Regions from separate parts of the Homo sapiens genome. Here region 2 is linked to region 1. The links come from fine-mapping of genetic effects on gene expression. A gene starts in region 1. The other region holds a variant in brackets. All regions are shown on one strand. Distances are between the middles of the regions. Region 1 holds the start of EXOC1 (exocyst complex component 1). Region 2 overlaps EXOC1 (exocyst complex component 1).

Evidence for each region. PIP is the estimated chance that this variant, and not a neighbour inherited with it, causes the effect.
Region 2: its variant is the best candidate, but not a certain one, in a credible set for the expression of EXOC1 in fibroblasts (GTEx, PIP 0.50).

The regions. Positions count from the first base shown.
Region 1 is chr4:55,850,844-55,856,233 of GRCh38, reverse strand. It overlaps EXOC1 (exocyst complex component 1), which reads right to left and starts at 2,586. Exons shown (of 19, transcript NM_001024924.2): 1 at 2,281-2,586. RefSeq lists a silencer at 2,695-2,794.
Region 2 is chr4:55,904,451-55,909,840 of GRCh38, reverse strand. EXOC1 (exocyst complex component 1) reads right to left here. Exons shown (of 19, transcript NM_001024924.2): 19 at 4,755-5,390. The coding sequence ends at 5,346. The region is part of intron 3 of EXOC1-AS1 (EXOC1 antisense RNA 1); the gene reads left to right. Among named protein-coding and RNA genes, the nearest start is that of EXOC1-AS1, 41 kb to the left of the region's middle. The variant G/T (reference allele first, on the strand shown) is at 2,134.

The DNA of each region.
Region 1 (5,390 bases):
TTATTTTCTTCACTTCTCTTGGACTACCAAATGCCACTTTCAAAAGCCACATATCCACGCTCATTGCGTGCATTACAAATATCTACATCCAGTGAAAGTTAGACTTTCAATGCTGCTCGGCAATTAATCCCTCATTTGATGATTCCTTTTTCCGTTCCCCATGACTATTGTTGTAAATCCTTATTACTCTCCTTCAGTTTCCAGGTCTAGCAGTTAGCCTCCTCCCGCTCTGCAAATGACTTAACAATCTACCTTGCAGAGGATATAAAAGCCATGAAATACAATTATCCCCAATTGCTTGCTTCTCCGTCTCTCCACACCTTCACCCAACCTCTCCTCCTTTTGGCTTATTATAGAGTGTCCATGCTGCTAATCCCTTAATATGTTGTAGGGCCCAGACACTATGTTATATTTCTTCCTAAGCCCAAGCCACAATGGCACTGGCCAGTTTACTTTTCTATCTCTGGGCTTTTGTTCATGCAACCTTCTTTTCCTAGAATTCTCTTCTCCCTAGGAAATTACAATTCATCCCTCAAGATTGTGCTAAAATGTCATCTTTTCTGTAAAGTAGCCCCCTCCCTGCAGCCGCCCCACGCAAAGAGTAATTTCTACCTCTCTAACACTTCCCCTCTACTTCATAAATACGGCATTTATGAATTGTATTTTCTAGCTAGCTGTATTTTATCCCCTATTAAAAGTAGGACCATGTCTTAATCATCTTTGTATTCCTAGAACTTGACAAACTAGGCATTTAACAAATGCTTAAATTCACTAACATGACAGCTATAGCTCCTCCAAGATTCCCCTTTCCTAACTTTCACATCTATAAGCAAATGTCCAGGTTCAAAATCTACCATATTTGCTTCCCTATTCCCTTATCAACATGAAATCTGCTACCACATTCTGCGATTTCCCCCCATCTACATGTAATTTATTCCTTTCTTTTCGCACTGCAAATATACTGACCCAGGTTCATATCAACTTTACTTAACCCTACAAAATCTGGTTCTCTTTGCAAGGTCCCACAACCCTGAACAACAAGATAATTTTAAAAGACAGTTTGTATCACATCACGCTTTTACTCAACGTTTTCCTAATGTTCTCAAAAACATTCCACTCCAAACACTCTGTTCATTTTGGACATCAAATCTTCACTTTGGTACTTTCCATGTAAGGAATATCATCTCCGCCCTATCCAAACCCTAATTACACTTCATGGTTTACATGAAGTTGATTCAATGAAGATCTTAATCCAAAGTGATCTCTCCTCTAAATTTCTACAGCACTTACTGCATTTGCCGTCTAATGGGCTCATTAAATCATAAGCTTCTCTATCTCAAGAATTCTCTTAAAGAAGGGAGGGATGTTCATCATAGTTTTGTGTTTAGTGGATACTTAAATATCTATTAAGGTAATTAGAACTGAATAGTAAAAACTGGTCAAATGAATAATAGGGACCAACGTTTACCACATACTCCTTCTCTGGCTAAAAGCAACTGAGTGTACAGTAAGAGGCAAAACAAGACAGGATTGGGCATACCTCATAAAGGAGTTAGCCATAATGAAAAGCAGTATGTGACTCTTCATTCATTCAGCAAATACTCATGCTTATTAGGTGGCAGACACTATTCTAGGTTACAGTAGTCAACATGACAGATATGTTTATGAAGACCTGAAGCCGGGTGTTTCTATGGCATTTACATCCTAAGAGTCGAGTGATTAACTCTTCAGTCTTTACGGTACTTTTCTGAAAGTCAGTAAATAAATCCCTAGAGGTCCTCTAAAATTATTCTCCAGGTCTGAGAACCCATATCTGACCACGTTCCAAAGGCAGCCATCCACTGCTTACTCTGTACTGGTTGTTTCCTTCAGCTCAGTTGGACCACCACACTGTGTGACAAATAGCCTGTCAGTGTGAGTGCCCGTGTGCATTGGGCCCTGTATGCTGCTGAGATATATTAATGCATGAAGCATTGCCATCTAGAAGATATAACTGTGCAAGGAAATAGAGAAATACACTTAAGAGATTTGGCGGGGGGTGGGGGGGAGTTGGGGTTGGGGGGCCGGGATGTGAATTTGGACAAAGAGGAAGGCACAGTCACGCTCTCCTCTCCTGGACCACGCCAAAGAGCTTACGATCAGGGTCATTTTGCACAAACAAAATCTGGTTCCGATGGGCGGAACCGTAATGGGGCCCGTGAGGACTGCCCTCCCAGCTCCGCATTCTCCTAGACCCGAGGACAAGGGACTGGAGAATGCTCTGACCAAACTTCGTCTTACCGGGACAAACGGGGAAAGGAAGGTCAGAAGGAGCGGTGCCCGACCCCAGGCGTGGAGACAGCAGCCGGACTGAGGAGCCGCCTTAGACCCTGGTGCCTGTCAGCTCGTCTGTCCGCCGCCGCCGGGACTACCGGGCAGCCGCGGCCGAAGGCTTACCGCAAGGCCGGACTGAGCCTGGCTGTGCCGAGGCGGGTCTTCCAAAACGGAGACCGGATGGGGGCCACTAGGATACGCCCCTCAATAAAGCGTTGAACGGGAAGCGGCCGTTCCCCCAACACTTCCTATATCCGGGCACGTGACAAACTCCGCGCCGGAAGTTGACCGCGTAGAGAAGGAAGAAGCAGCGATGGGAGAAAAAGGGAGCGGCCAATAGACGCGGAGGGGCGGGGCGCCAACCGACGGGCGTGGCCAGGCGGAACAAGGCCTCATTGGAGGGGCGTGTCAGGGAAGGGCAGGGGCGGGGCCTTTGTGGCACAGAAACTGACTTGGGAGTTGGGGATTAAGAGTTATTTATTCAGATATTTGCAGCAATTCATTTAAGAAGAAATTCGATTAAATGTTTTCTTTTTTCATACGTAAAGCTCTATTAACTCTAGATCTTTGCTACTTAAACTTTGGAGAGCTTAAATGAGTTAAATCAGAATCCCTGCGGGTGGGACCCAGACATCAGTACTTTTAATATCTTCCCAGATGATTCTCATATGCAGCTAAGGTCAAGAACCATTGTCCTCATGACCTTGATACTCAAAGTGTGGTCCGTGGATCAGCTGCTTGGGTATCATCTGGGGGCTTTTTAGGAAATGCAGCCTCTCTGGCTCACTTCAGATCTACTGAATCAGAATCTGCATCTTAGCAAGATGATGCTTATGCATATTTAAGTTTGGGATGCATAAATGATGCCAATGTTGCTGGTTGCAGGTAGGTGTTTTATTTATTCAATATTCCTGGCACCTTTTTTTTTTAATGCTAGGCACTTTGATTCCAGGTACAGAGGTGATTCAGGCATGAATCTTAACCTAAAGGAGTTCACAGTGTGGTAGGACTAGACAAGGTGTAGGTACAAATATATATAAAATAGGACACAAAATAAGTGACCAAAGAGAGGTACAGATCAGATAAATGTGCTAGAAATTTAAATGAGCAAACAGTAGTTAGAATACTTTTCACTTTCATCAAATGACTTCCCTTTTAAGAGCAGGATCTGGTTATATCTTTACAAAGACCCTTTCCTGCTTGGCACCGGAATGCTTACTGTGGACACTCTATGACAATTGCATGTGTTTTTTGGTCCTATTATCTTTCTTTTATTTACCTGTATGTTTATAGCCCTCCTCAAAGTTGGGAAATGAATTGCATTTCAGAAGCCTAGATCTCTTTCTTGAACCTCAAGATTTGTGTATATACTGCCCATCGCCTGACATTTCCACTTGGATGTCTTATAGACACCTCAAACTTGTGTGTCCAAAAATTAAATTATCCTCTCTCCTCTTGGATTCCCTGCAAAGTGACACTTATATGCAATAGTTTATTTGGAAATTTGATCCCAGGGAGCAAAATGAGGGAAGAGGAAGAAGACAAAACAAAAAGGGAGATGCAGTATAAGAATGTGTTACTGAGTTGGTCATCACCATATTTGAATGTTTTCTTAGTCCCTTAGGACCTTCTAAGAAGCTTTATGAAATGAGTCTCAGAACTGTCCATTAAAGGAAAGAACGGAGGAAGCATTTGTATGTCGGCTCCTGTCCTCTTTGATCGAAGGTTAATGCCCTTGGGCATTAACTACTTCACACTTACAAATCGCACAGTTGTGAATGCCAAGCTGACTCCCACATCAGAGACATGCTGGGGCAGGAAGTGAGAGGAGAGGTGCTGGTATTTCGCACTTGTTCAAAGGTCATCAAACCTGCTCCGAGCAGGTTGCTGCAGCAGTGGTTAGAATAATAGGCTGAAGGGATTTGAAGTCATGGCCTAAGTTGCACAGAAGGACATAGAAGGTGTCCATATCTTGCAGCACTCTGATCTGCCTGTGTGCTCTGTTATGTTCAGTCCTTCACAGAGGTCTCTTCAAGGTGATGGCCAGCCACAATCTCAGCAAAGCCTTAATATAAGAGAGTTAATAGAATAAGCTTCAGTTTTTACTGCTGCATCAATGTCAGGACCATACTTGTATTAACTCCCTCTTCCACTACCCATTCTAATTTTCCCTCACCATTGACCAGCACATCAGCTGGTCTAAGTTGTTTCTCTGGTGAAATAGCCCCCACCTTCAGCCTTTATTTTCCTTTCTCTGGTTAAGCCATGATTGCTGTAATTACCTGTTCAAATTATCCCTGGGTACAGAAACACCTAGTAAGCCCCAGCGAATTATTTGGATTCCAAATTCCTCCCTAGTGCTATTGTGGAGCAACAATCCTAGATCCTTTTGCTAATCACAGTTGATTACTCCCACGAGCATAGTAACTCCTTTCTTTGCCAGCTTGTCCACTTCCGTAAGAAGCACAAGGTAACTAAGTAAAAGTTTGAAGTGCAATGAATTCCATAGTGTTTATCCTGGTGGCAGCATTCCCCACTCAACTCCTGAAGAACCAATTATTGCAATCTAGCAAATACTAATTTTTTTTTTTTTGAGACAGAGTCTCGCTCTGTCACCCAGGCTGGAGTACACTTACATGATCTCAGCTCACTGCAACCTCCTACCTCCTGGGTTCAAGCAATTCTCATGCCTCAGTCTGCATGGCTTACTACCATGTTGCTTCCAAGTCTTTGCTCAAATGTTACCTCACTGAGGCCTTCCAAGAGAACCCTATGTAAAATAGTTCCCCAACCACCCTCCTCCCAGTATTTTTTATCTTCCTTTTTTACTTTTGTTCTTCATGGTTCTTGCTACATTTTGACATATTGTATATGTTGTTTGTTCATTTGCTGTTTCTCTAGAATGAAGTTTTATGAAAGCAAAGATTTTTATCTGTTTTTTTCAGTGATGTATCTCTGATTCCTGGAACTCAGAATAATATCTAACAATTACATAGCACTTATTATGTGCTATGTACTATTCTAAGCATTTTACATGTATTAATTAACTTAATCATCACAACTACCCTGTGAGGAAG
Region 2 (5,390 bases), 54 kb before region 1:
ACAGGCGTGAGCCACGTGCCCAGACACCTACAGTCATTAAACTGTGTGTGGCATCTCCGCTATCTCTGTGTAATTGGTCTGTTACTGCAGCAGGCACATGAGCCTGTTGGTCCTATAACGCTTTCTCCATCTATGTTAATATATTCTTCTTCCCTGTTTCATCTATCCCACCGCCTTTTGACTTTCTTCCCCCATCCTCTCTTTTTAAAAAATTTTCCATAAGTTATTGGGGTAGAGGTGGTGTCAGCTTACATGAGTAAGTTCTTTACTGGCGATTTGTGAGATTTTGGTGCACCCATCACCCGAGCAGTCTACACTGCACCATATTTGTAGTCTTCTATCCCTTGCAACCCCCTCTTGCCGCCGAGTCCCCAAAGCCCATTGTATCATTCTTATGCCTTTGCATCCTCATAGCTTAACTCCCACATATCAGTGAGAACATACAATGTTTTGTTTTCCATTCCTGAGTTACTTCACTCTGAATAATAGTCTCCAATCTCATCCAGGTCACTGCAAATGCTGTTAATTCATTCCTTTTTATGGCTGACTAGTATTCCTTCATATACATATATCATATATATGAAGGACATATATCATATACATTCATATATATAATGTATGAAGGATATATATATCATATATATTGATATATATATACCATATATATGAAGGATATATACCATATATATGAAGGATATATATATCCTTGGTGCCTAGTGTCATTCAGAGGCACAAATGATGTAACTTTACACTTCAAAGCTTTGCAACTTGAACTGCAGGGGCTGTGGAACAGCAGCATTGATGCTACTTGGGAGCTTGTAAGAAATGCAGAATCTTGGGCGACACAAAACCTATTGAATCAGAATATGCATTTCAACAAGATTCCCAGTTGTTTAATAAATACAATGAGAAACATTGAAGTAGAGGATCCCAAAGCATATAGCCATGAGAACTAATAATCTTTGACACCATTGATATTACACATTTAACTTTCCTGGAAAAGCTATTTTTACTTTCTTAGTACTTTCTCATCTACAAATATTCTCTAAGTTATGATTTTCAACAGTTTGTTTAAAAGTTCTGTGTTCCTCTCTTGTTATCACTTCTAGCAAATAATAGTATAGATCTTTAAGGTTTATAAAACTATAACTGATGGGAGTTATCCACCACCTTTTAAGTAAGAGCCATATCACCTCATTACAATTAACCATTGCCTGCTAATGAAGATACCAGACACTGTTTTGTCCTTGGAGGTGGTATATGTTTATATCTGTGTCATCCCTGATATCAATAGAGAAAAGGAAGTGTTTGGCACTTTGAGAGGGAATTTGGTGTTGTGTGGAATATCAGCTCTGTTAATACCTGGCTTGGACCTTGATCAAGGCACTAAAATCTCCTTTGGTCCTAGATCTTATCTATAAATGTCTAGGTTTCATTATCTATCAGTAAAGATATATGCATATCCACATATATGAATTTGATTTTAAATATTTAAATCAAGTGTTGAATTGATATAAAATAAGATTTATGACTGGGCATGATGGCTCATGCCTGTAACCCCAGCACTTTGGGAGGCTGAGGTGGGCAGATCACTTGAGGCCAGGAGTCTGAGACCAGCTTGGGCAACATAGCAAAACCCCTTCTTTAAAAAAAAAAAAAAAAATTCGCAGGACATGGTGGCATGCACCTGTAGTCACAGCTACTTGGGAGGCTGAGGTGGGAGGATTGCTTGGGCCCAGGAGGTTGAGGCTGCAGCAAGTTGTGATCGTGCCACTGTACTCCAGCTTGGGTGACAGAGCGAGACCCTGTCTCAAAAAAAAAATTATAAACTATATATAGGATATAAAGTATCAGGATACAAAAAATCTGTGTATGCACTGTCCAGTTTAAGAATATTCTAATATCCCTTTGAAATCCTGTATGTCCCTGCCAGACACCATCCCCTTCCTTTCCTGCTCCTCCAATCACTCCAGAATTTTATCATTCTCTTTTCTTTAGTTTTACATTTGTAATCCCAAACCACATATTATTTAATCTTAAAGGTTTCTGAATTTTTATATTAATAGGATCATACTGCATGTATTTTGTGATTTACTTTCATCTGACATTATTTTCTTGTCATTAATGTACATT[G/T]TTTGTATAGCAGAAATTTACTTTCATTTTCACTACTGTATTGGTATTCTACTGAATGAATATATACCTCAATCTATCCATTCTACCATTATGGACATATGGGTTATTTGCAGTTTTTTGCAGTTATTTGCAGTTTTTTGTTATTACAAACAAAAGTAGTGATGGGAACTTTCATTAGACTTTGTATTAGTTTGGTGCAAAAGTAATTGCAGTTTTTGCCATTACTTTTAATGGCAATGACTTTGGCACCAACCTAATATTAATTCATAATACATGAGTTTCTTTGTGGCAGTGGTTCTCAATCCTTAGAGTACCAGAATTAGTGGGAAGCTTTTAAAAACCATAGATGCTTGGGCCCCACTCTGGACCAATTGAAATGTAATGTCTGGGGCCCAGCCACATGTATTTATAAGCACATAGGTTATTCTAATGTGTAAAGCAGGAAACGAAGGGGAGGGTATCTGGCAGAGACATACAGGATTTTAAGATCTATTCCTTTGGGGCACACACCTAAGACTGGAATTACTGAGTCATAGGTGACACACATCTTTACTAGATAATGTCAGATGGTTTAAGTGATTATAGAAGCATTTGTGTTTTGATGGCTTCACATCCTTTTGAATTCACATTTCCTTGATAACAAATAAAGGTGAATACTTCGTATGTTTATTAGCCATTCTGTTTCCTTCGTCTGTGAAATGCCTTTGTAAGGTTTTTGGGTTTTTCTGTTCTATGGTTTTTTTTTTTTAGACTGATTTTTGGGAGCTTAAAAATAGGCTTTGGATGCTGATTGTTTTGTGACGTGTTGCAGTTATATTCTCTTAATTTGTGGACTGTTATTTCACTTTCATCAAAAGACCATTAAGTTCTTATTTTTAATATAGTCAAATCTATTATTTTTTTCCAATTTGCAATTTTGTGTCTTTTTAAACAAAATCCTTCTCTGTCCTGAGGCAAAAAAGATATTTTCTTACACTGTCTTTGAAAAGTTCTATATAGTTTTTGCCTTTCACATTTAGGTATTCAGTACACGTGGAATTCATTTTGTGTGTGTGGTGTGAGACACGTGTTCCATTTTCACCTTTTCTCTTATGGACTACCAAATGTCTCAGTACCATTTATTCCAAGTCTATCGTTTCCCCACTGACTTGCCGTGCCACACGGGTAATAGTCCATTTTTTATGGTTCTGTTTCTGGGCTCTCAGTTTCATTCCACTGGTCTATTTGTTTATCTTCGTACCAATAAAATGCTGCTTTAATTATAATTCTTGATAAGGAAACTCCTTCCAGCTTCCAAGGGGAGTATTGGCTATTAGTCTTTTGATCTTTCATATAAATTTTAGAATCAGCTTGTCAAGTCCTACAGAAACAAAACCAAACAAAGACAGTTGTGATTTTGACTGGAACTGTGCTGAATCTTTAAACTTGAAAATAACTGCCAGCTGGTGCAGTGCCTCACACCTGTAATCCTAGTGCTTTGGGAGGCTGAGGCAGAAGCCTCACTTGAACCCAGGAGTTTGAGATCAGCCTGAGAAACATAGTGAGACCCCATTCCTACAAAAAATAAAATTAGCCAGATGTGGTGGTGCACATCTGTAGTCTCAGCTGCTTGGGAGGCTGAGGTGGGAGGATCACTTGAGCCCAGGAGATAGAGGCTGCCGTGAGCTATCATCACACCACTGCACTCCAGCCTGGGTAACAGAGCTGAGAGATCCTGTCTCTCTCAAAAAAAAACAAACAAAACAAAACAAAACAAAAAGGACTGCCATTTCTACTTTAGTATATGTGTTCTTATCTGGAAACATTAAATACTTCTTCACTTATTTTGGTTTTCTTTAATATCTTTCAGTAGTTCTAATTTCTCCATAAATGTCTTATACATCTTGTATTAGCTTGGGCTGCCAAACTATTTTCTCAGTTTTGGAGGCTGGAAGTCTGAGATCATGGTGCCAGCATGGTCAGGTTCTGGTGAGGGCTCTCTTCCTGGTTTGCAGACAGCTGCCTTCTCATTGTGCCCTCCCACAGCAGAGGGAGAGTGAGCTCTGCTGTCTCTTCCTCTTCTTACAAGGGCATTGAGTCTATTGGATCAGGGTTCCTACTCTTCTGACCTCATTTAAACTTAATCGTCTCCTTAAAGACCCTATCTCCAATACAGCCACATGGGGGGTTAGGGCATCAACATAAAATGTTAGTAGGGCCACAATTCAGGATATAGCACATCTTTTGTTAGAGTTAGTCCTAAATACTAAACATCTTCAATATTATTATTTTTCTTATTTTTTTTTCAAGTGACAATATCTTGCTATGTTGCCCAGGATGGAGTACAGTGGCACAATCACAACTCACTCAAACTCTTGGGCTGGGGCAATCCTCCTGCCTCAGCTTCTCAAGTGGCTTAGATTATAGGCATGTGCCACCACAAAAAATTGTTCTTCTATGGAGACAGGGTCTCACTGTGTCGCCCAGACTAGTCTCAAATTCCTGGCCTCAATCAGTCCTCCCTCCTTGGCCTCCTAGAGTGCTGGAATTACAGGCATGAACCACTGCACCCGGCTTACTTTACTTATTATTAAACTTTTAAGTGTTTTGTGGTATATAAACTTGCAATTAATTTTTGTATATGGATTTTGTAAGAACTTGCTTTAATACAGAAGACAGCATATGATAGACCTAAAAATATTATCAAATGTCAACTTTTTTGAAAATTTATTTCACATTTATTACTAGTCACATAATCCTCAAAAATCTAAGTTCACAAATGATCATCACATGAGCCCTCTTCTCCATATACACATTTGTTAGTGTGAAAAAACAATTTTGTACAGTATTTTAGTAGTTACATGATTAGCAAGCAACAGAGAAGTAGTGAAAGCTGAAGAACTCCAAATGCATTGCTCATAGGACAACCACTCAAACACAAGCAGCTAGGCAATAAAGGAAAATTTCCCATCCAGTCATTGAGAAATGCTAAAGGCATTTTATGGTGACATGAATGCTTAAGTTAGTATGCAACCTATAGGGCAAATAAAACTGCTATATAGGTTGGTAATTTTGCATTTAAATATTTGTAGTATGGTACTACCCATTTATCTAACATTTAATAATACATAAAATTTTAAGTCTGGGTTCTCAAAACAGTTGCTTGGTATTTTGGTATAGTGTCTGTTATACTCAAATGCTTCATTCAGTTATCTTTTCTTCTTTCACAAGGTTTAGTGGGACTGTGCAATGCTGGAACAATAATCCAGAATGTCCTG